3 linked regions of the Homo sapiens genome follow. The protein of the gene in region 3 interacts with the protein of the main gene of each other region in a biochemical or structural test. Each region holds a gene or a part of one and is shown on either strand. Other genes may lie near its edges.

Region 1 (7,029 bases), on a different chromosome or scaffold from region 3:
GACAGAAGATTACTTTCCATCATAAGCCCTTCTGCACTATTTGATTTCTTTAAATCATATATTCCTTTATAAAAGTAATTTTTATTCAACAACTAAGGGGTGCTTGATTTAGGAGCAGAATGAAACCGTACGCTCTTAAAGAAGTAAAAGGCACAGGCTTCATTGACACTGACGCACTCTGCGCCTCTGATCTCTCAAGAGAACAGGTTTTCTCATCTAAGATGTTAGAAAAATAGAAAGTTAAAAAATTATCCTGTCTTTTTATTATGAAATAAACATCTATTTTAAATGTGCTATTAATTGTTCATTGGTTAAGACTATTAACATTTTACCTCTAATTGCCACGAGAGGAGCTCTGTCATCTTTGCACTTATTCTCCAACTAACTTATATTTAGAGAAATAAGTATTTACTAATTTAATAGGTTAAAAAATAGCAATTTTCTAGAGTTACTGATTTAAATTTGTTTTAATTCTAACACTTCTGCTAAAGCTATTGTTAATTTATGTATGTATACACAAAATGCAAGTCTACTATAGAAATCATTAATCCGTAAAGATTCAGAATACCTATGAAAGGACACATAAGAAATTGTAATGCCAGTGGTCTCCAGGAAAGAGAACTGGTTGTTGCAGAGCAGGAGAGAAGACTTCACTGAATATCTTTAAAATTTTGAACCATGTGAGTAAATTACATTTTTTAAAATTTAAAGCAAAATAGGTAAATAAAACATGCAATTATCTGGCACACCGCACTCAATAATTACTGCCGTTATTACCATATATTATGAGAATATGATATACAGTACGTTGCTCTTCTATATACATGTAATTATATCTTATTATTAAAAGTCTACCAACTCAAAGCTTCCCCCTTTCCTTCATAATTTAAGTAATGTATAGAATGTGAAAACCCTGAATTCCACTAGGGCAAATGTCCCTGCAAATACTATCAGTCTGATGTCAGACATAATTCCAGTACCTCCAACTCTTCAGGTGCTCACACCACATACTCAAAATCTAGCATTAGAAATTCAATTGACTCAACTCAATAACTTCAACACAGGTCATGAAGAAAGTGTTAATCAATTAAAAATATTAACTGATTTTGCTGTACTTTGCGAGGCTGAGGCCAGCAGATTGCCTGAGGTCAGGAGTTCAGGACTAGTCTGGCCAACATGGTGAAACCCCATCTCTACTACAAATACAAAAAAATTAGCGGGGAATGGTGGCATATGCCTGTAATCCCAGCTACTCAGGAGGCTGAGGCAGGGGAATTCCTTGAACCAGGCCTCGAGGTGGCGGTTGCAGTGAGCCAAGATTGTGCCACTGCACCCCAGCCTGGGCGACACAGTGACATTCCGTCTTGAGAAAAAAAAAAAAGTATTAACTAATTTTATAAAATAACAGGAAGCAGACAGTGTTGCATTTAAATAAGATACCTTTCCTTGGAAAAAAACCTAAATCACCCAACCTTTCTAGTTATATTAGCCAATTAAGCCCCTAAGAATTTCTCAGACCTCCAAAAGAAAAACTACTTTGCCACTATCACCCTTTTTCTTCAGCCTAACAATTAAGATACCCAGCTTTTCAATTCTCATAGGCCATAAATGTATCTAGAAAAGTTCCTCTCTACATAGCTATTCATAATTCATAAGAAAGCTTAAATGACTCCATGCAGTGCCTTCTAAGCAGTCCACAAACAAAAGGTACAAGCCAGCCAAAATCCAAGCAGCAATTCCATATATACTAAGGAGGAAAAAAAAAAAAACAGAAATAGTAAGACAACAAATCTTAAATCAGATAAAACTCTGCTGCTGAGTTAATAAATGTAGATGGACAATGGAAGAAAGAGTTGGAAACAATACCCTGGGCTAGCACACTAAAGACTTTAGTACCTTTATCCATACTGCTGAAATCCAACTAGAAGATGGTGAATCAGACAGAGGTGACCCAGTTCTCTTCATCACTTCAGTGATCAACAAATTACAGATATTTTATGTAGTTTATGCAGAAGCCCAGGTTTCCACAAGAGATTTTTCTGCCTCCTGCCTCTTTAAAAGAGAATTAATATTCTCAGATGGGTGCAGTGGCTCATGACTGTAATCCCAGCACTGTGGGAGGCTGAGGCAGGATTGCTTGATTCCAGGAGTTCAAGACCAGCCTGGGCAAGATGGCGAAACCCCCTCTCTATAAAAACTACAAAAACTAGCCAGGCATGTTGGCGCATGCCTATAGTCCCAGTTACTCCAGAGGTTGAGGTTAAAAGATCACCCGAGCCCAGGAGGCAGAGGCTGCAGTGAGCCAAGACTGTGCCACTGCACTCCAGGCTAGGCATAGGCAACACAGCGAGACCCTGTCTCCAAAAAAAAAAAAAAATTTCTCTGGGTGAACATTTTCAACAATTATCAGAATGATTTACCCTGGAACTATATGAACCTACATACCCTACATACACTAAGTAATCCCAATATGCTTGTTTCCCCTAATCATCCATTCTTTTCAGTAGCATAATGCTTAATCAGTACCTATCCATTCCCCTGATCTGTGATTTCAAAAAAACCCAGACAACTCAATGAATTACAACTATATGTTAAATAATAACAAGGAACCGTTAATAAAAGCCTGAAAACTAACCTATGAGCAAAGTTTACACTCCATTTGTCTGCAGATATTAGCTGCTCAGGAGCACTTCTGGTTTACTGTCAATTACCAGCCAATTCCAATAAGGTGAGATTCCAAATAACACAATTCCACATTGATGCATAGCTGTTATTCTTCAGGAAAACTAAATTAGAAACACAATTTAGTTCGGCCACATGTGGTGGTTCACGCCTGTAATCCCAGCACTTTGGGAGGCCGAGGTGGGAAGATCACAAGGTCAGGATTTTGAGACCAGCCTGGCCAACACAGTGAAACTCCGTCTCTACTAAAAATACAAAAAATTAGCCAGGTGTGGTGGCAGGCACCTGTAATCCCAACTACTTGGGAGGCTGAGGCAGGAAAATCGCTTGAACCTGGGTGGCAGAGGTTGCAGTAAGCCCAGATCACGCCATGGCACTCCAGCCCAGGAAACAGTGCGAGACTCCATCTCAAAAAAAAAAAAAGTGTACTTTTTATTACTGAATTGATTTGAAATAAGAATCAAGAAATTAACCTTAGACCATGTTATTAAGGGAACACGTTAAGGACTTGGCTTTGTGCTGTTGTTAACCATGGTACTCTGGAAATAAAAAGTTGGTTTGACAAAACTAGTTTCAAGACAAATACATCATTACTTCAAGTGATCAAACCAAACATGCTAAGAAAACTATTCAATACAAAAAATATAAGATTTAATCACTTATAAAATTGGAACCTGCACATTGTTTGGAAGTTGACCTCTCTTCCCAAAATATAAGCAAAAATGGTAAGGGGGATTATAAACTAAGAACCCAAATCGACTAAATTGTCTTTTGTTTTGTTTTTTTTTTGAGACAGAGTCTCTCTCTGTCGCCCAGGCTGGAGTGCAGTGGCACGATCTCAGCTCACTGCAATCTCCGCCTCATGGGTTCAAACGATTCTCCTGCCTCAGCCTCCTGAGTAGCTGGGACTACAGACGCACACCACCACGCCCCCGCTAATTTTTGTATTTTTAGTAGAGACGGGGTTTCCCCACGTTGGCCAGGATGGTCTTGATCTCCTGACCTCGTGATCCACCCGCCTCGGCCTCCCAAAGTGCTGGGATTACAGGCGTGAGCCACCGTGCCAGCCGAACTAAATTGTGTTTCTAAATCTTATACCACATCAAATGCATTACAGACACAAGTATATTGGAATAATTTACTAAAAATGTCCATTATGTACTGAGTATTAGCTCATTTAAAAAAATAGAAAACTCAATAACGTAAAATGGAATATTCCTTTTTTATATAAATTTAAAGGCAGAAAATCTCAGGGAAAACAAACTTCTTTAACTCTACTCAGTTTTTCCTTGCTGTTCTATTCACATAGGTTTTTATATAAATATACATTTATACATTACACTCAACAAATTTCAAAAGCAATTTGATTTGTATAACCAAGGATGATTTGTATAACTCAAGATAAAATGCCAAGAGTGCAACCTCCGCTTTAATGAAAATGCTCTTCTTCTGAACAATGAAAATGCTTTTATTCTTGAAATCGGGGAAAACTCCCCTTCCACCACCACCACCCCACACACACACACAAAAAATCAGCTAGAAAATGATAAACATTCCAACAAATTAATTTACTTATGGTGATTATGTTCTTAGAAGAACAATATCCGGGGAACCCGGTTGGTCCTGTTAGTACCAACACACACTCTTGTCTCACCCACACAAGCGTTCTGCCCCTCCATTCTCCATTATAGGGTGGAGCATCACAAGAAGCACCACAATCTCACATCCTGTCTGTCATCTCCAACCCTGTCTCAACTTCATGGGTCTTATTTAAAAGTATGGAACTGTGACAATAGGGTCAACATATGCATGTTTCACAGCCTTCTCTATGCATAAAGTGCACACACAAATAGAGCTCTCCCACTCTTTAGACTCTGCTGCTGGAATAAAATCTCTGACTTTCCCAGCCTTGCTGTTTCTCCAAAATATTATCTCACACCTGCAACTCAATTCTAATATAAGGGCTACACAGTAAAGCGTGCAAGTACTGATTTTCAGCTGAACTTTGCCAGTGAAATGAGAAGATGTCACCTCATTTTCTAAATGCAGTTCCCAATCAGCCATAAGGTGATTTGTGAATCACTGGGTTCCCTTGAAGTTTTTCCTTTTGCCTGTGACTTACTGTCACTTCACAATTAGCATTCTACAGGTGCATGCAACAAGAAAGCATGCAATTCTTAAATATCTTAAACGTTTTAACAACTCTGGGGAAGTCGGGTTGGGAAATGACTGAAAATAAAGTTCTGGTTTTCAGTCTCACACATGAACTCTTTTCCACATTAACACAGGATTATCAAGAAATGGACTAAACTCTAATAACCTAATTTTTAGATGTCATAAAGAGATTAAACTTCCCAGGGGAATACGGAAACTCTAAGTTGCTACCTACTCTTTGGCTTTAATCACCATACGACGTAATACTGCAGAATAATATGCAGCTACTATTATTCTCTCTTTGCTAATAGAAATTTTGATCTAAAAAAGTTTTATATGAGGAAACAACTTAAGTGATACAGACTTATTTTCATATTTCTAAATCTTATATTTAAGTATTAAACCTAAACAACTAGCTAAATTTTCTCCAATTGTATATACCAAAAGGATTACTAATATTTTAACCAAAAGTGCCACAAACAGTCCCTTACTTTCCCTATGGAGTAAAATATCATGTGATTCTAAAGAAAAACTTTATAAACATTTATTTAATTACATGTAAACTTGGAAGTGAACAAAAATGAAACATTGGTTTCACTATAGCAAGTAAAAAGTAGTATTTCAAATATACTGATTTAAATTTGGGATTAATGCCTAAACTCAACAAAAAGGGCAAAAAATACTTGTTATAAAATCAACTTTTAATTTCTTCTGGAGTCTTCACAAAGTGAAGGCTCTCAATACTTTATTCTTAGATAAATTTTGCATTTAAAATAATAGTAATAATCATTATTTATAAAAAACAAGTTTTAAGCATATATCAAAGATTAATGGCTACATATCTAAAATGTTACAGTCACAGTTTAGTCCCAAAAGTATTTTCATTGATCTGAAATAAGCCATCATGAAACTATTATAACCAGGTTTCAAGTGTGAGGCTTTTGAAGCTGTATATAAAAAAAAAAAAAATTAGGACTTTGATGAGAAGCATTTAAATAAAAGCCCTTAGTTTACTGCTCCCGAATATAAATCCAACATCTTTAGGTGTAGAAAAATTAGAAACTGTGCAATTAATAGACTAGGAAGTCAAATATCATTGCCAGTAACTAACTGCTGTCTGAATTTCAAGGGAACTTATTGTATATTAAATTTTAAGAAAGTGAACTCACCTACCCTCTCACCTCAGCACTTTCTCAATTTTCCCATTACAATTAACAATATAACTTAGCAGTCAAGTCTTCCAGGCCAGTAACATCAGAATTTATTTTTAACTCTTGACTCCTTCACAAATATTCCACTTCAGTCCAGTATGAAGTTCTGCCAGTTCTTCATTCACACTGTCTCTCAAACCTGTTCCTTTCACCCCACTTTCACATTTTACTTTATTCCCTCATGATTCACAACATACCCTACTAGCTCCCTAAAAAGGCTCTAGCATCTCTCTACTATAATTCACTAATTCAACTGCAAAAATCATCTTACGTCTTATTCAGCAACCAACAATAAATCCAGATCTCTTCTGAATCTCAATCAAACTTGTACAGAACCCCTCTGCCCTCCATCAGCTAACTTTCTCTTATTTCTCAAATTCCATCTGTTCTTATGTTCTTATTTAGGCCCCTTTAATTCAGATTTGTCAACTTGATTATTGTCTCTCATGCAAAACTCACCATCATTGTTCCTTGGTACACTCCTTCCACCTAGACCTTTCATGCTTTTCTACCAGTTCAAGTTACCACCTCCTTTAACATCAGTCCTAATACACCTTGTCCGCAGGAAGTCTTTCCTCTCCCAACCATCAGTCTCACCCCTTTACTCTTTGCCACTCTGAACAAATGATTCAATTTGTATTTTACAATCTTGCAGTCATCACGCTATTGTTTTAATTTTTTTTTCCCCATAGCCTCCCTCTACAACTAAAGGATAAGCTTTTGAGAGCAAGGACTACAATTTCTTATGTCTGTTTTCAACAGGGGTTCCTTAGAATGCTAGCATCCTAACAAATGCTTAAAGACTCCCCTTTCTTTTAAATGCTTTTAAAGTCAAAGCTGTCAAAAACACATAATTAACACTAAACTCCAACTTTTAAAATTCTAAATTGACCTATATGGTAATCGGAATTAAACATTTTCATCTATATATTTTACAAGAGTTACTCCATCCTTAGTTAGTATCTGTATTACCAAGAATTCA
Region 2 (7,691 bases), on a different chromosome or scaffold from region 3:
GAGGCAGGTTTAACATCACCTACGCTCCTTTCTGAGTTCAGGCTGGGGTGTTGTATGGAATGTCCTTCCCACATGAGATTTTTCCAGGACCATCTCCTGCTGGCTCATGGCAAGCTGTGGACCCAAAATGCCCTAAATCCATTGGCTGTGTTCTAAAGATTGTGTATATAAAAATATGTAACTCTTTATGTATGGACTTGATATGAGGCATCAGAAGAAAGAGGTAAACAGTGAACCAGGTATGCCAAGTACAGACAGGTTAGCCCTGGGGCCACTTTAGCAGTGGTGTCCCACTCTAAGAGTGAAGGGGTTTTTTTGCTTGTTTTTTTCATTTTGTTTTGTTTTGAGACAGGGTCTCACTCTGTTACAGCAGTGCAATTAGAGCTCACTGCAGCTTTGACCTCCCAGGCTCAAGCAATCTTCCCATCTCAGCCTCCCAAGTAGATGAGACGGCAGGTGTACACCACCACACCTGGCATTTATTTTTTTTGTAGAGATGGGGTCTTGCTGTGCTGTCCAGGTTGGTCTCAAACTCCTGGGCTCAAGCAGTCCTCTGGCCTCAGCCTCCCAAAGCACGGGGATTACAGGCACGAGCTATCATGCCTAGCCTCAAAGTGAAGTTTTATAAGAATCATTCCTGCAAGTCCCAGAAGACCCACCAGAAACAAGAAGGGTGTCTGTGGGTGGATGGAAGCAGAAGGCCTCCCTCTGGTCCTGGTCTTGATTCCTGAACACTACCCTGGGGCAATATGCCTTCAAAAGGGAGGAAAAACAGCAGACAGGAGGCAGAGGAAGAAAAACGAGAATTAAAGTAGCAAAAAAAGGTACAAGTTTAAAATAAGTTTTTATTGTTTTTTCTAATAACATAATAAATGCCCAATGTAAAAAGTTGAGGAAATTAAGAAAAAGATAAAAAATAAAATAACAATGACCTAAAATATGATTACTTGGAGGAAATGATCATTAAAATTTTTGTGTATGTATTGCTTTCTATGAAAATTTACACATATAAATAAGTTTAAAAATAATGGAAATATATGTGTATTAATACATATATATAAACATACATATGTACACATACAAACACAATACTAATTTATTAGCTCTTCTTAATTTTAATTTGTTGTGAACATCTTTCCACACAAATAAATAAATAAATGGCAATGTTATAATTTTATGGCTATATAGTATTCTATTATAGATATAACATAATTTACACACCAAATCCCTTATCAATGAACTTTTCTCAGTGTTTCACTATTATAAACAATGTTCCAATTATTCCCATGATATGTGCGCTTGTGTTTGTGTATTTGCAAATTTGTTCCATTCTTTCCCAGAAGTAAAATTGCTAAGTCAAATGTATACATTTTTTTAAAAGGCTTTTCACAAATGCTATTAAACTGCCTTCCAGCAATGTTGTACCAATTAAAAATTCCACTAGTAGGGTATGGATATCCATTTTCCTGTTGAACCTCCTATCACATTTACTGGCCATTTTGGGTTTTGTTTCTGTTGCACATATTTTTCAGTTCGAACGTTCATCTTTATTTTCTTGTTGATTTGTAAAAACTCTACATTGAGGGTTTTTACCCTTGCCATATGTGTTGTTGTTGAGTTGACATTTAAGAGAAGATTAAAACTAAAATAAAATAATAAGACAAGAAAATGTTTTAGCTAATAAAAATAAGAAAAAAAAGTTACTTTAAAAGCAAGATATAAGATTCAGATGAGACAAGTTCAAGAAAGCCAGAATAGAAAGAGGAAACTTTAAGGTAAAACAAGTAGAAAAATACAAAATATATAAACAATATCAATAAAATCAAAGAGAAGTTCTAGAACAATGACTACATTCTAATTTGTATAATAGAAGCTACTCATAAGAAAACAAAACTGGTGGTTGTGGAAGACAATATTACTTACCTTGGGTAGGCCAGGGACAGCGTCTCAGATCTTTAATCAAGTTCTTGGTAGAGATTGGCAGAAAAGATCAAAACGGGAATAGTATACAAATCTTTTGCAGTGCTCTATTCACTTGTTCAGACCATTAGCAAATCCTCCTGAGGAGTCCAAATCCATTTAAAGCTACATTTAAGACGGGCAACAGATAAAAAAGTAGGTAAGCAAAGAATTACAAAAAACAGGATGAAGTCTTGATGGGAGCAGGTTAATCTGTCATTTTAATCACATTGTCTCTTTGTCCACTAATTAGATCAAGAAGCTATTACAGTTGCAGACACTAAGAAGTGACTTCTCGTGAAGAAACAGAGAGAGAGGAGGAGAGAGGGAGAGAGAGAGAGAGAGAGAGAGAGAGGACTTATCCCACCTACTCCAGATTTCCAGATTTAGCGTAAGATAGATTGAACTAAACATGAGATTTCAAGGAGATATATAGCCTAAGAGTGTTTTTTTCTTGAGAGCATATGACACTTAGTCTGTCCGGAATAGTTTGAGAACAGTTTTACTATTTTTCCCATTTTACGTATGAGGACACTAAGGTTCAAAAAGGATAAGCGACTTGCTTCATCAAAGCGCTCCCAACAGTGAACTGTGGAGCTGGAATCAGAAACAACTCCAGACCAGTGCTGCCCGATAGAGATATAACTTGAGCCACATAGGTTATTTAAAATTTTCTAGTAGACGCATTTAAAAAATAAAAGAAACAATTTAATTAACTCTAATAATGTTTTATTTAGCACAGTACATTTAGACTATCATTTTAACATGTAATCAATATTAAAATGGGATACTTTACATTCCATTTTTCATGCTTGATCTGAAATATCTAATACATCTTTTACATTTACAGCACATCCTAATTTGCAGTAGCCAAATTTCCAATACTGAAGTACATTTCAAGTACTTAACAGTCATGTGGCTAGTGGCTACCTCCTCGGACAGCCCAATTCTAGAACTATGGTCCTCAAGGTGCTGTCTCCAGATTGGCTGTATCAACATCACCTGGGAACTTGCTAAATGTGCAAATTCTTGGGCACCATCCCAAACCCCCTAAATCAGAACCTCAGGTGGTTAAACACAGCAATTCATGTTTAAGCAAGCCCCTTCAGTTATTTCTGATACATGTCAAAGTTTGAGAACCATTGCTCTACCCAACTGCCTCTGCATCCCAATCCAAATAAACCCAGAGCAGCCATTGCGGACTAGCCCTGAGGACGAAGAGCCTCTGCTCTTGAGATAAGCAATTCTTGGCTAAATGAAGCTGGCTTTCTCTTGTATGGAAATATCCTAGTCCTAGCTATGGTTCCATTTCTTGGGATTATGGAATTTCCAGACACAATTTAAACATGGTTTAATTTGTCATTTTGTTTAAGGAAAAGGAAAAAAATCCAGTAACCTCTGTATACTGTCACCTTGAGTTAGTTACTTAACTTTTCTTTTCCTCAGTTTCCTCCTCCATAGGATGCAGATCATTTAATAAATGTTAGCAACTTTTCTTAAAAAGTAGTGTGTACAAAAAGAAAAAAGTCAGCAAAAGGGACAGATTTTTTTAAACTACAGTAAAAACAAGTAGTGGGCCGGAAAGGCAATATTATAGATTTTGAGCACAGAAGCAGAAGCTGATTCACTTATAATTTCTTAGAACATTAGATTTGCTGAGGGGGAAGGTAGGGTTCTTGCCAAAATCATTAAGGAGAGCGATTCTGAGTATGCCTTAAAGCAGAACTTTCAGTAAACAGGAATTACCTATAAAGAAAATCAGGAAGCCAAAGTGTTTCTTTTTATGAAGTTACATCCTGCCATAGAAAAGCTGGATAGGAAATAAAGACCGATGCACTCCCAACTGTATACTAAACCGGCAATTATTTCATCAAGGGAAATATGAGCAAAAGCTCAGATTCAGTGAAGGGGAAAAAAACATGAGAAGTTTGAATGTTATGAGAAACCAAAGACAACCAATGACTACAATTAAACGAGGTTTTTTGGGGGTGGGGCGGGGAATGTACGAACAAATCTCTGTCATTTCAGGTTCCTTAGTCGCCGCTTGGCCCCTCCCCCTATTTCAGTAATACTTCCTCCAGACTTTTGCTAGAAAAAAAATATAAATGAGTGTCCGCAGAAATAGGGGACTGATAAAATGATCCTAATCTCCTTCTCCTCCTCATTGTTATTTGTTGTGCGTTTCCACGTTTCAGGACAGGATTCTACTTTGCTCCGTACTCTTTTCAGTTTGATCAAAGAAAACGCTGCTATCACCGCCCAATTTTCCATTTCATCCTCTCACCCTCAAATGAAAAGACACCAGAAAGGCAAGATAGCCCTGTCTCGAGGCAGTTTCCCATGGTTTTGGGGGAATGGCAGGTGCCAATCTGCAGCAGCAGCTGCAACCTTCCGCAAAGCGGAAACTGCAGTTCACACTCTCCGCTCTTTCTCCCGCCCTACTCCGCCACCTCACAACTCCACACAATCCTTAAAAACACACAGACCTCCTCCTCCAACCTCGCATTTTCTTGCACACCCTGCACCGCACGCACCCTGGGATGCCCGCTGCCACAGTAACGCTCAACCCACTCGGCGGCCCCACCTACTGCCGTCCCGCCCACGCCCCAGGCGCCAATGGTTGCGGCTCGCAGCTCCCAAGGGGCTCTTTGATAGGGCAGCCGGGCCTGTCACTCTCGAGGCGCGCCCCGCCCCCTCCTCGCTCCCCTCCGGAGCTGGAGGGGCAGAGCATCAGCAAGAGTAGCAGCGAGCAGCCGCGCTGGTGGCGGCGGCGCGTCGTTGCAGTTGCGCCATCTGTCAGGAGCGGAGCCGGCGAGGAGGGGGCTGCCGCGGGCGAGGAGGAGGGGTCGCCGCGAGCCGAAGGCCTTCGAGACCCGCCCGCCGCCCGGCGGCGAGAGTAGAGGCGAGGTTGTTGTGCGAGCGGCGCGTCCTCTCCCGCCCGGGCGCGCCGCGCTTCTCCCAGCGCACCGAGGACCGCCCGGGCGCACACAAAGCCGCCGCCCGCGCCGCACCGCCCGGCGGCCGCCGCCCGCGCCAGGGAGGGATTCGGCCGCCGGGCCGGGGACACCCCGGCGCCGCCCCCTCGGTGCTCTCGGAAGGCCCACCGGCTCCCGGGCCCGCCGGGGACCCCCCGGAGCCGCCTCGGCCGCGCCGGAGGAGGGCGGGGAGAGGACCATGTGAGTGGGCTCCGGAGCCTCAGCGCCGCGCAGGTAAGCAGGCGGCGGGGATGCGTCGCGGGAGGCCTCGGGGATGCTGCGGAGAAGCCCGGCCGCCGGCGCCCCCGCGCACGCCGCCCCCGCCGCAGGGCCCGGTGCTGCGGTCCCTTGGCCGCCAGGGCGCTCCGCGGGGCTGCCGGGGAGTCGGTGCTTGGGGTCTTCCCGCGGTTGCACCGGAGGACACCCCTGCGGGGTGCGGCCCCGAGGCAGCGCGGGGATGGGGACCCCATTTCCTCGCCCGCAAGCGGGCGCCGGGTGAAAATGGGAATTGGCTTGGGGGCGAGGCTGGCCCAGACTCCGCCCCCGCCCTCCTTTTGGGGCCCCCCGCGGGGACTGGGGCTGTGTGTGTTGTTTTAATGTCAGGGATGATGTAATCACTTAATAATTGATGCCCCGTGCTGCTTCCCTCCCCACCCAACCCCTGCCCCACTCCTCCACCTCTCGGCCTCCTCCCTCGGCGGCGGTCGCCTTCTCCAACCCATCCTCCTGCCTATTTCTGGCACCTCCCTTGCACTTCCCCCATCCTCCCCTTCACTCTTCCTGTGCCACCACCCACCCACCCTTCCCCTTTCCCCTGTGCTGGAGCCTTCCCTCCTCTTCCTCTGTCCCCCACCCCTCTGCTCCCTCCAGCTCTTTTCTCCTTCCTTTCCGGCTCCCTCGCTGGATTTCCTCTCTACTTCCCTAGATCCATGGCTGTTTTTGTTTGGGCTCCTCCCCTCTGTTATCTCTGCGGCCACAGGCGGAGGGGACTGGGCCAGAAGGAGGCCACCGAGCTTGGGCCCAGCAGAGATGTGCTGGGACTCACTGGGAAGAGGGATAATAAAATCACCCTTCTTGCCCCTCCTTCCCCCAATAAATCACACAGACTCGCCGGGTGTGTGAGTGTGAGTGTGACACAAAGAGCCCTTTCAGTGCATAGAGAGGAGACACACAAAGTACCCTAGGATAGGCACGATGCTTCTTGTCTCTCTTCCCTGGGGCTTCCCTTTCTTTCCCATGAAGCAGTTGATCTCTCTGAGTCTTTCCTGCCACATTTACCAAAAAATAAAAGAACCCCCGGATGCCGGGTGGCAGGTGTCGGCATTTTGCTGTGTTCAGAGACCGGTAGTGTTGACTGGCAGCTGCAGTGTTTCTTAGATTTAAGGGAACAGTTATCCCAGCAGTCTTAAGAGTTGCTTTACTTTTAAGGTAGCCTCCCCATCCCCTCGTTCTTTCCCCTGTCCTTTTGGGAACAAGTACTAAGAGCTGGGGTAGAGTAGATTGGTGTGGGGGTCACAAGAATTTTGTTTCTGAATCAGAATTAAATTGTTATTTGATAAGAGGGAGGCAGCCTGAATGGCTTCTTCTCTCAAGTCTAAGAGGGCACTGTACTGAAGTCTTTTGAAATGAAATCCTGTCTGCCCAGTGATGTTGTTTTACCCTTTTATTGAAGTAAATACCTGGGGACGTGGATAAAACGGTCTAGAGTTAGCATTTGGAAGACCACTGCAGACTGCCTCTTGCCTGCTTCAAGGTAGTCTTGGGACGCCTACTTCCTTTCTCACCACCCAAGCAACTGCAATACTTTCCACCCTATGTACTGTCTTCTTCCCCAGTCCCTGCTCCATGGGTACCCTGTATTCAGATGAAGGGACTCACAGACTTTTGGAGGAAGTGGTTTAACTATCTGAGGCTTTGAGGCCACTTGGCTATGAACTGGGGCTGTAGAGAATCTTGACTGAAGTCTAAACCATTTGATGTTCCCTTTAAGGAAGAAATGTTAATGTAAATCTGGGGGCTTAATGTTCCGTTTTGTAAGCCAGTGACTATTACATGCTTAATCGATATTGTCAAAACTTAAGTTGAACCTGTTCTTTCCTAAAAGTATGGCTCCTCGACTATTTTTATAAGTAACAGAACTGTAGGTTTAGTCTTCAGTAATTTTATTAGAAAAGAGTTATGATTCATTAAATATTTACTTACACACTTTTTAAGAACATTCATCGTGGAACTTTTTACGATAAAAAAAGCAATAGGGTTAATGAGTGTACTGTAAAAACAAAGGGTCGTTTGTTTGATGCCAGACCCAGGAAGGAAAGCCAGAGCACATAAACTCACACTCTGTTGACCAAGTTTAAGAGACTTAATGATAAGGTTGAATGTGAGCAAATGCACACTCTGCTTTCTCCTGGGTCTGGAATCTCCAACCCCATCTGACTTGCTCGAAGTCCTTTTTAACCTTTGGGGCCCAGCTCAAATGTCATCTCCTCTGTGAAGCCGTTTCCATCTTCTCCTTTCCAAACAAATCATCATGTTTTGGTTTCAAACTTTGGCAGCAGGCATTATGTTTCGCATGAGTCTATTTCCACCATTAATTGGTCAGCACATTGATAAAAGGAACCTTATCTTACTTATCTTGTTTCCTACCAAGTTTTATCTTAGCGGGTATTCTGTTTCATTTAACATTAAACAAATGTGAGTTAGGTCTTTGGTATGTGCTCAACACCTGTATCAATTAGGCTAATGTTAGCAGGTGTA
Region 3 (5,310 bases):
ACCAATTGGAAGACAATAAAAACAACAGCTCCTGGCCAGGCGCAGTGGCTCACGCCTGTAATGGCAGCACTCTGAGAGGCTGAGGCGGGCAGATTGCTTGCGTCCAGGAGTTCAAGACCAGCCTGGGCAACATAGCAAAACCCCGTTTCTATTAAAAATACAAAAAATTAGCCAGGTGTGGTGGCATGCACCTGTAATCCCAGCTACTCGGGAGGCTGAGGTGGGAGAATCACCTGAGCCTGGGAGGTCAAGGCTGCAGTGAGGTGAGATTGTGCCACCGCACTCTAGCCTGGGCGATAGAGCAAGACCCTGTCTCAAAAACAAACAAAAAACAGTCCCTGGCACTCTGGGCCAGGCCTGGCAGGGCAGTTGGCAGGGCTGGTCTTTCTCTGGCACTTCATCTCACCCTCCCTCCCTTCCTCTTCTTGCAGATTGAAACCCACAAGCTGACCTTCCGCGAGAACGCCAAAGCCAAGACAGACCACGGGGCGGAGATCGTGTACAAGTCGCCAGTGGTGTCTGGGGACACGTCTCCACGGCATCTCAGCAATGTCTCCTCCACCGGCAGCATCGACATGGTAGACTCGCCCCAGCTCGCCACGCTAGCTGACGAGGTGTCTGCCTCCCTGGCCAAGCAGGGTTTGTGATCAGGCCCCTGGGGCGGTCAATAATTGTGGAGAGGAGAGAATGAGAGAGTGTGGAAAAAAAAAGAATAATGACCCGGCCCCCGCCCTCTGCCCCCAGCTGCTCCTCGCAGTTCGGTTAATTGGTTAATCACTTAACCTGCTTTTGTCACTCGGCTTTGGCTCGGGACTTCAAAATCAGTGATGGGAGTAAGAGCAAATTTCATCTTTCCAAATTGATGGGTGGGCTAGTAATAAAATATTTAAAAAAAAACATTCAAAAACATGGCCACATCCAACATTTCCTCAGGCAATTCCTTTTGATTCTTTTTTCTTCCCCCTCCATGTAGAAGAGGGAGAAGGAGAGGCTCTGAAAGCTGCTTCTGGGGGATTTCAAGGGACTGGGGGTGCCAACCACCTCTGGCCCTGTTGTGGGGGTGTCACAGAGGCAGTGGCAGCAACAAAGGATTTGAAACTTGGTGTGTTCGTGGAGCCACAGGCAGACGATGTCAACCTTGTGTGAGTGTGACGGGGGTTGGGGTGGGGCGGGAGGCCACGGGGGAGGCCGAGGCAGGGGCTGGGCAGAGGGGAGAGGAAGCACAAGAAGTGGGAGTGGGAGAGGAAGCCACGTGCTGGAGAGTAGACATCCCCCTCCTTGCCGCTGGGAGAGCCAAGGCCTATGCCACCTGCAGCGTCTGAGCGGCCGCCTGTCCTTGGTGGCCGGGGGTGGGGGCCTGCTGTGGGTCAGTGTGCCACCCTCTGCAGGGCAGCCTGTGGGAGAAGGGACAGCGGGTAAAAAGAGAAGGCAAGCTGGCAGGAGGGTGGCACTTCGTGGATGACCTCCTTAGAAAAGACTGACCTTGATGTCTTGAGAGCGCTGGCCTCTTCCTCCCTCCCTGCAGGGTAGGGGGCCTGAGTTGAGGGGCTTCCCTCTGCTCCACAGAAACCCTGTTTTATTGAGTTCTGAAGGTTGGAACTGCTGCCATGATTTTGGCCACTTTGCAGACCTGGGACTTTAGGGCTAACCAGTTCTCTTTGTAAGGACTTGTGCCTCTTGGGAGACGTCCACCCGTTTCCAAGCCTGGGCCACTGGCATCTCTGGAGTGTGTGGGGGTCTGGGAGGCAGGTCCCGAGCCCCCTGTCCTTCCCACGGCCACTGCAGTCACCCCGTCTGCGCCGCTGTGCTGTTGTCTGCCGTGAGAGCCCAATCACTGCCTATACCCCTCATCACACGTCACAATGTCCCGAATTCCCAGCCTCACCACCCCTTCTCAGTAATGACCCTGGTTGGTTGCAGGAGGTACCTACTCCATACTGAGGGTGAAATTAAGGGAAGGCAAAGTCCAGGCACAAGAGTGGGACCCCAGCCTCTCACTCTCAGTTCCACTCATCCAACTGGGACCCTCACCACGAATCTCATGATCTGATTCGGTTCCCTGTCTCCTCCTCCCGTCACAGATGTGAGCCAGGGCACTGCTCAGCTGTGACCCTAGGTGTTTCTGCCTTGTTGACATGGAGAGAGCCCTTTCCCCTGAGAAGGCCTGGCCCCTTCCTGTGCTGAGCCCACAGCAGCAGGCTGGGTGTCTTGGTTGTCAGTGGTGGCACCAGGATGGAAGGGCAAGGCACCCAGGGCAGGCCCACAGTCCCGCTGTCCCCCACTTGCACCCTAGCTTGTAGCTGCCAACCTCCCAGACAGCCCAGCCCGCTGCTCAGCTCCACATGCATAGTATCAGCCCTCCACACCCGACAAAGGGGAACACACCCCCTTGGAAATGGTTCTTTTCCCCCAGTCCCAGCTGGAAGCCATGCTGTCTGTTCTGCTGGAGCAGCTGAACATATACATAGATGTTGCCCTGCCCTCCCCATCTGCACCCTGTTGAGTTGTAGTTGGATTTGTCTGTTTATGCTTGGATTCACCAGAGTGACTATGATAGTGAAAAGAAAAAAAAAAAAAAAAAAGGACGCATGTATCTTGAAATGCTTGTAAAGAGGTTTCTAACCCACCCTCACGAGGTGTCTCTCACCCCCACACTGGGACTCGTGTGGCCTGTGTGGTGCCACCCTGCTGGGGCCTCCCAAGTTTTGAAAGGCTTTCCTCAGCACCTGGGACCCAACAGAGACCAGCTTCTAGCAGCTAAGGAGGCCGTTCAGCTGTGACGAAGGCCTGAAGCACAGGATTAGGACTGAAGCGATGATGTCCCCTTCCCTACTTCCCCTTGGGGCTCCCTGTGTCAGGGCACAGACTAGGTCTTGTGGCTGGTCTGGCTTGCGGCGCGAGGATGGTTCTCTCTGGTCATAGCCCGAAGTCTCATGGCAGTCCCAAAGGAGGCTTACAACTCCTGCATCACAAGAAAAAGGAAGCCACTGCCAGCTGGGGGGATCTGCAGCTCCCAGAAGCTCCGTGAGCCTCAGCCACCCCTCAGACTGGGTTCCTCTCCAAGCTCGCCCTCTGGAGGGGCAGCGCAGCCTCCCACCAAGGGCCCTGCGACCACAGCAGGGATTGGGATGAATTGCCTGTCCTGGATCTGCTCTAGAGGCCCAAGCTGCCTGCCTGAGGAAGGATGACTTGACAAGTCAGGAGACACTGTTCCCAAAGCCTTGACCAGAGCACCTCAGCCCGCTGACCTTGCACAAACTCCATCTGCTGCCATGAGAAAAGGGAAGCCGCCTTTGCAAAACATTGCTGCCTAAAGAAACTCAGCAGCCTCAGGCCCAATTCTGCCACTTCTGGTTTGGGTACAGTTAAAGGCAACCCTGAGGGACTTGGCAGTAGAAATCCAGGGCCTCCCCTGGGGCTGGCAGCTTCGTGTGCAGCTAGAGCTTTACCTGAAAGGAAGTCTCTGGGCCCAGAACTCTCCACCAAGAGCCTCCCTGCCGTTCGCTGAGTCCCAGCAATTCTCCTAAGTTGAAGGGATCTGAGAAGGAGAAGGAAATGTGGGGTAGATTTGGTGGTGGTTAGAGATATGCCCCCCTCATTACTGCCAACAGTTTCGGCTGCATTTCTTCACGCACCTCGGTTCCTCTTCCTGAAGTTCTTGTGCCCTGCTCTTCAGCACCATGGGCCTTCTTATACGGAAGGCTCTGGGATCTCCCCCTTGTGGGGCAGGCTCTTGGGGCCAGCCTAAGATCATGGTTTAGGGTGATCAGTGCTGGCAGATAAATTGAAAAGGCACGCTGGCTTGTGATCTTAAATGAGGACAATCCCCCCAGGGCTGGGCACTCCTCCCCTCCCCTCACTTCTCCCACCTGCAGAGCCAGTGTCCTTGGGTGGGCTAGATAGGATATACTGTATGCCGGCTCCTTCAAGCTGCTGACTCACTTTATCAATAGTTCCATTTAAATTGACTTCAGTGGTGAGACTGTATCCTGTTTGCTATTGCTTGTTGTGCTATGGGGGGAGGGGGGAGGAATGTGTAAGATAGTTAACATGGGCAAAGGGAGATCTTGGGGTGCAGCACTTAAACTGCCTCGTAACCCTTTTCATGATTTCAACCACATTTGCTAGAGGGAGGGAGCAGCCACGGAGTTAGAGGCCCTTGGGGTTTCTCTTTTCCACTGACAGGCTTTCCCAGGCAGCTGGCTAGTTCATTCCCTCCCCAGCCAGGTGCAGGCGTAGGAATATGGACATCTGGTTGCTTTGGCCTGCTGCCCTCTTTCAGGGGTCCTAAGCCCACAATCATGCCTCCCTAAGACCTTGGCATCCTTCCCTCTAAGCCGTTGGCACCTCTGTGCCACCTCTCACACTGGCTCCAGACACACAGCCTGTGCTTTTGGAGCTGAGATCACTCGCTTCACCCTCCTCATCTTTGTTCTCCAAGTAAAGCCACGAGGTCGGGGCGAGGGCAGAGGTGATCACCTGCGTGTCCCATCTACAGACCTGCAGCTTCATAAAACTTCTGATTTCTCTTCAGCTTTGAAAAGGGTTACCCTGGGCACTGGCCTAGAGCCTCACCTCCTAATAGACTTAGCCCCATGAGTTTGCCATGTTGAGCAGGACTATTTCTGGCACTTGCAAGTCCCATGATTTCTTCGGTAATTCTGAGGGTGGGGGGAGGGACATGAAATCATCTTAGCTTAGCTTTCTGTCTGTGAATGTCTATATAGTGTATTGTGTGTTTTAACAAATGATTTACACTGACTGTTGCTGTAAAAGTGAATTTGGAAATAAAGTTATTACTCTGATTAAATAAGGTCTCCATTCATGGATTCCAAGGACAAGAAAGTCATATAGAATGTCTATTTTTTAAGTTCTTTCCCACGCACCCTTAGATAATTTAGCTCAGAACAGGAAATGATAGTATTAATAAAAGCTGGACATCAGGATTAACAGCTCTCTCTGGGGCCCTGAAGGTGAGAGTTCTCAGACTTGCTCATTTGCAGTTGCTTCTTTGTGATGCTGGCAAACCATCCTAGTCCCATTCAAAGGGCAATACAAAGCCTTGTGGCTGACCTCACGATGCAGCACTCAGTTTGCAAGACCGGCACCAGTGTATGCAAACCTGAGAAGGTTGGGGATGAGGATATGGGATCTTTCATCCCTGGAAATTTAGTCCAGAGGCCTGGGGCTGGAGCAGAACACCAAGCCAATCAGCTTAATGAATGGCTTAGATTCCTGCTAGGTTTGCAGAGCTGCCTTCTTTCCTTTGGTACCTTATTATAGATTGAGGAGTATTTCTGCTAAACCAAG

Evidence for each region.
Region 1: of the proteins of MAPT (region 3) and GSK3B, one has a biochemical effect on the other in vitro, tested with the Homo sapiens proteins (21 studies listed by BioGRID and IntAct, with this or other methods).
Region 2: of the proteins of MAPT (region 3) and FYN, one has a biochemical effect on the other in vitro, tested with the Homo sapiens proteins (10 studies listed by BioGRID and IntAct, with this or other methods).

The regions. Positions count from the first base shown.
Region 1 is NC_000003.12:120,084,440-120,091,468, forward strand, and holds part of GSK3B (glycogen synthase kinase-3 beta), read right to left. Parts: intron 210-7,029; exon of another isoform or gene 125-209; intron 1-124. UniProt on the Homo sapiens protein: Constitutively active protein kinase that acts as a negative regulator in the hormonal control of glucose homeostasis, Wnt signaling and regulation of transcription factors and microtubules, by phosphorylating and inactivating glycogen synthase (GYS1 or GYS2), EIF2B, CTNNB1/beta-catenin, APC, AXIN1, DPYSL2/CRMP2, JUN, NFATC1/NFATC, MAPT/TAU and MACF1.
Region 2 is NC_000006.12:111,870,445-111,878,135, reverse strand, and holds the start of FYN (tyrosine-protein kinase Fyn), read left to right. Parts: upstream 1-4,683; 5' UTR 4,684-5,168; intron 5,169-7,691. UniProt on the Homo sapiens protein: Non-receptor tyrosine-protein kinase that plays a role in many biological processes including regulation of cell growth and survival, cell adhesion, integrin-mediated signaling, cytoskeletal remodeling, cell motility, immune response and axon guidance.
Region 3 is NC_000017.11:46,023,525-46,028,834, forward strand, and holds the end of MAPT (microtubule-associated protein tau), read left to right. Parts: intron 1-431; coding exon 432-647; 3' UTR 648-1,592; coding exon of another isoform or gene 1,593-1,664; 3' UTR 1,665-4,810; downstream 4,811-5,310. UniProt on the Homo sapiens protein: Promotes microtubule assembly and stability, and might be involved in the establishment and maintenance of neuronal polarity.